2 separate regions of the Homo sapiens genome follow, and region 1 is linked to region 2. Evidence: fine-mapped expression QTL. Tissue or cell type: nasal epithelium. Region 2 holds a variant in brackets; the other region holds the start of a gene. All regions are shown on one strand. Distances are from middle to middle.

Region 1 (2,627 bases), 21 kb after region 2:
ATGAGAGGCCAGAACTGAAGTAAACTAAAGTGTTGCCAAAAAATAAAAATAAGGTCCAAGTTGATTGATCGATAACACGGTTAGTATGAAGAAGTCCACATTATGCTAATTTCTTTACATATTATTCTAATTTGTATTGTCTCTGAAAGTCAAAATATCATCTTAGTCAATTAACATTTATTGGTGATAACATTTATTGGTGAAGTTGAACCATATATGTATCTTGAAGTTAACATTTTTGCTATATATCGGGTGCTGTTCTAGGGGCTTTCAAAATTATCCAAGTCTTGAACTTTTGCAACCCTCCTTTTTAAAGAGGAAACAGGTTCGGTGACTCAGTGACCCACCTGAGATCACCTAGCTAACAAATTACAGGATTAGGGTGTGAACCCGTGGAGCTCATCTGTTTCCATGCTCAGAATCCCTTTGCTAGACTGCGTGGCTCTTATGTCTATGTAAGCATGATAGTCCATGTTTAGTTAATATAAAAAGCTATTGTTTTCATAAAACTTTCATTTTCACTGAAATACATTAAGTGACAAGAACTTTACCCCATTTATCATTGGCCCTGATCTTCTGATGGTCTGGCAAGCTTCCCTGAGTAGTGTTGCCAGGATGCTAGACTTACCTGCGAGATTTGCCTTATAGATCTAATCTAGACAGAAATGGCTGACTTCACAGAACTTTGGAAACAATCTGCAGACATCAAGTTTTACTTATAATTGAATAAAAATAATTTTTCTTGCTTATTAGCTATGACATTTGTGGTAAGTTGCTTAAAGCTCCAGACTTACCCCGTCTAATACAGTTGTCTCTAGCCACATGTGGTTAAATTTTAATTGTAATTAACTAAAAGGAGATGCAGTTGTGAACTCATTTTATCAGTTGCACTTGCCACATTTCAGAACTCAATAGTCACATGTGGCGAGTGGCTACCATACTGGACAACACTGCCCCAGACCAAAATACCAAATCATTTAACTTTTCTGAAGCTGTTTCCTGTCTTATAATGGGTCTAAGATTTCTAATGATCATTAGCATAGCACTATTGTTGGTAACATGAAATAATGCATGAAATTCTTTGCATATTGTAAAGTACTATACTCATGTAAGTTGTTTTTTCTTTTAATAATTGCTGTACTGTGTTGTGAAACTGTACAGTCTTTGCAATACTAAGACTTTGGCCCCAGGATCTTACAATCACGTTAGCTCTTTTTCAGAAGTTGAACTATGTGTCTTGAAGTTGACATTTATGCTTTGTTCTTTAAGACTGAAGTCCTCATTCTGCACCACTGACAACTTCTGACAGTTTCTCTTACTGTGGAAGGTTCTATTCTATATACACATAAAAAGTGAAACATATCACTTTACCATCTGGACCATGTCTATTAGAATTTAATAGGAAAAAAGCGCAATTAACTAGAAGCTGGTAAGAGTAATGATCTTTTGCCCCATACAAAGTGGACATTGTGGATCACAGAGAAGGTAAATGAGTAACAGAGCTCCCGTATGCTTCATGGGGTCAGTGATAACCAAGTTCATTAACGAGTGACAGTCTTAATGACTAACACACCTCTAACATTTCACCTCTAGCTCAGATGAGAGAGAGAATGGGACTTCTTGGTACTGATTGTTTTTCCCATGCCTCAATTGGTTTCTTTTAGGGAGCTACAAATTTACGTGTTCACTGGTGATTGATCTTTTCATCCAGCACAATGGACAGAAGTCTAAGGAACGTCCTTGTGGTTTCCTTTGGGTTCCTGCTTCTCTTTACAGCCTATGGAGGTCTGCAGAGCCTGCAGGTATGTGTGTCCGGTCATCAAATTACCTGAACTTCTTGGCCTCCAAGAATCCCTGTGGTCACAGACAATAATGAATTGGAAATTTGAAAAATCTAATTCACCTGGTGTTTCTTTTTCACTCTGTACCAAATCCTCTAAAACAAACAGTGGTTCTCAGATGCAGTCCTACAGTGAGCAGTTCCCACTCACGTCTCAATAGGATTGCACAACAGCGAGGTGCACGTTGCTCTTGGACAAGGACAGCAGGGGTCTTGGGACTGTGATTTGTTGGGACATTCTTTGCCTTTGGGTGGTTAAAAGGAGACACAGGAAAAGTCATTGTGAATTCTATGATTGATTGGATGCCCTTGGCTTTGTGGTTAGGGGCAGCCATGTGAATTTATCAAATGTCACTAGACCTTATACATTCCAAGCCTACTCTAAGCTAAACTGTGAACTTTGACAACATGATCTCTCTATACTTTGAACTCCTTATGGCATGCTCTCCTCCATAGTTCCGTGAGCCCATGAAAAAGCCAAACGGCATTCTCCGAAAGGCTGCAGCATTCATCATGTGCACCTAGACATAGACCTGACACATTTTCCCAAGCTGGTTACATTTCAAGTCTGATCTTTACCTGGATTCCAGTCTGAATTCCAGGGAATTCCAAGGGCTGGTCAGGAAGCAGGGCTATTGTTACTCCCCCGGCTTATTCATTGCCACAGTGTTGTACCCTGTGGCCTGGTGTGGTCACATAAAACATTTCAGAGCTTCTGATGACAAATTAGTGTGGTCTTACATGGTTCGTCAATGAAGAATAAGAATTGGGCACCTACTGTGTGCAT
Region 2 (2,763 bases):
CTACAAAATAGTAATAATAATAATAATAATGGTAATAATAATAATAAAGCTGCATGGCCCCCAAAGGGTCGTGTCCAGCTCTGGATAAACTTGTCTGGTTAGTTCAGGTTTCATGGCGCGGCATAGAGGACCCCGACCGTTCATCACTCATTGCTGTGTCCCCAGTTGGCTGTGGCCTGAAACTGCCTGGTTTCAGTCAACACTGTTGCCGTCTTGCATCAGCCATTCAGGGGGTGGGTACCCATGGGAGGGCCTCAGCCAGGACAAAGGTCCACTTCTGTCTAATCGTGTAACTTTAAAATAAAGCTTTTGTGCAGGGACAGAGTAAACAAACTTTAAATGTGAATTTGCATCAATTGAACATTTACAAGTGTGACACTTTTACCTGGTGGCCCACTGGGACCAGGACGAAGCAGCTGGAGGGGCCCCAATGTGTGACTGAGAGAGGAATGTGTGGGCAGCCGTAGCGAGGCTGAGAGGTGAGCAGGCTGGGAAAACCCAGCGAGATGAGCGTGGCTGGAGACCGGCGGAACAGGCAGGCTGTGCAGGGCTTGCATGGGCGAGTGAGGCGCCCGTGCTGGCCAGAACATCATGGCTCTGTGCTGAGGGAACCACGGTGAGCGACGCCCAGAGACCCAGTCTTGGATCAGGAGCTGTAGTGGATACAGTTGAGGGAGTTTTGTGTAGTGCCTCACTGTTCTGATAAGAAGAAAACATGTACAAGCTACGAACTGCAAATTGAGAAATTTTGGTGATTTTGCAAATGAGATAAATGGTCCTATATTTGCATTTGAAATTGGCATTGCACAAAATAAGTTGACTAATAATTTTTAATTTTCCTTCTTAGAATGACAATGTGGCAAATAAAGGAACCCAATGAAAAGAAGGGAAAGAGACTGCAGAGGGAAGGAAAAAGCTTTATATTTTACTACCATAATGGCACTTTTTAAAAAATTTTTATTTATTTATTTATTTTTGAGACAGAGTCTTGCTCTGTCGCCCAGGCTAGAGTGCAGTGGCACAATCTCGGCTCACTGCCAGCTCCGCCTCCTGGGTTCACACCATTCTCCTGCCTCAGCCTTCCCAGTAGCTGGGACTACAGGCGCCCACCACCACGCCTGGCTTTTTTTT[G/T]TGTGTGTGTGTGTTTTTAGTAGAGACAGGGTTTCACCGTGTTGGCCAGGATGGTCTCTATCTCCTGACCTCGTGATCCACCTGCCTCGGTCTCCCAAAGTGCTGGGATTACAGGCGTGAGCCACTGGGCCCGGCCAATAATGGCACTTTTTCCTGCTTTTTGTACAGGGGGTCCTGCATTTGTGTTTTGTCCTGGGCCCCTAAATTCTGCAGCTGGCCCTGGTAGAAAGCTGAGAAGTCAGAACAAAGGACTGCCCAGAGGCTGCACGGGGTGGGGGTGGGGGTGGGGGGGGGGCGTTCACATGGTCCGGAGTCCCCACCCCACCGCGTTTATATCTGGCACACTCTGGAGGACCCATCCATCTGTGTTCATGTCTGGCTGTGGCATCTATTGACCATGGGCTCTCAAAGTCACCTAATCATTTTGCATCTCTCTTTTTTCATGTCTAAGACAGGGATAATGATGGCACATACCTGTTAATGGCTGTTGTGAAGCTCTGTGTTAAGTTCTTAAGACAGAACTTGTCACAAGTCAGCCAGGCGTCATAATCACCGATGCCATCTCTTAACAAACTGGCCTTAACTATGAGCAGAGGGTGCAATGCGGAGGGCTGTGGGGTGCCCAGAGGTGAACAAGATGAGTGCTGTTGTCAGGGAGCTTTCAGTGGGATGAGGGAGCAGGGCCCCATCACGAAGGACATGGGGGGTTAGGGGAAAGGGGAGCCTTCCGGTGTGGGGGACATGGACAGACCTTCGGAGGAGAAAGGGTTGTGGGTTGAGTTGCATCCCCCGGAAAGGTATGTTGAAGCCCTAACCTGGTGCCTGTGAACGAGCCCTCACTTGCAGAACTGATCAAGTTGAGCTGGGGTCAACTAGAGCAGGGTGAGCCTCGAGTTCCATGTGACCAATGTCCTCATGGGAGGAGAGGGGAGCACGGGGAGAAGGTGACCACTTGAGGACGAAGGCAGAGGTTGGGGTGACGCGTCTACAAACGAGGGTTTCCCCGAACACCAGAGCTAAGAGCAAGGCATTGGCGCCCTCCCGCTGTGGAGTCTGCAGAGGGAGCCTGGCCCGGCTGACACCGTGGGTGCAGACTCCCGGCCTCCAGGCTGGGGGACAAGAAGTTCCTGTTGTGGCGACCTCAAGAAACTAACACAAAGGGGCATTTGAATTCAGTTGTCCAGGAAGATACAGGTGTTGCAGGGATGGGCTGCCACGTGGGCGGAGGCCTGGATGGGAAGGATTGTGCCAGGCATGGGTTCCCGCAGTGTGTTCCCCTGGCTGGCAGCGTCGCGGCACCTGGGAGTCATTAGGCAGCAAGGGAGGGAATTGCGATTCTGGGCGGGGCTCAGCTGTGCAGATTTTAGCAAGGTCTCCAGGTGCTTCTGCTGAGGGCCAGAGTTAAGACAGAGCTTAAGACAGAGAACCTCAACAGGAGGCCTGAAGGAAAGCACCTGGGAGTCATTAGGCAGCAAGGGAGGGAATTGCAATTCTGGGCGGGGCTCAGCTGTGCAGAGTTTAGCAAGGTCTCCAGGTGCTTCTGCTGAGGGCCAGAGTTAAGAAAGAGCGAGAACCTCATCAGGAGGACTGAAGGAAAGGAGCCAGGCTGCAGCCCTCTGCCTGCCCTTCCGT

What was found. PIP is the estimated chance that this variant, and not a neighbour inherited with it, causes the effect.
Region 1: UNC93A starts here. The variant in region 2 is fine-mapped to the expression of UNC93A in nasal epithelium (TOPMed, PIP 0.99).

The regions. Positions count from the first base shown.
Region 1 is chr6:167,289,775-167,292,401 of GRCh38, forward strand. UNC93A (unc-93 homolog A) reads left to right here and starts at 1,541. Exons shown (of 8, transcript NM_018974.4): 1 at 1,541-1,802. The coding sequence starts at 1,716.
Region 2 is chr6:167,268,648-167,271,410 of GRCh38, forward strand. It overlaps a transcript of UNC93A not described here. Among named protein-coding and RNA genes, the nearest start is that of UNC93A, 21 kb to the right of the region's middle. RefSeq lists an enhancer at 1-202. The variant G/T (reference allele first, on the strand shown) is at 1,132.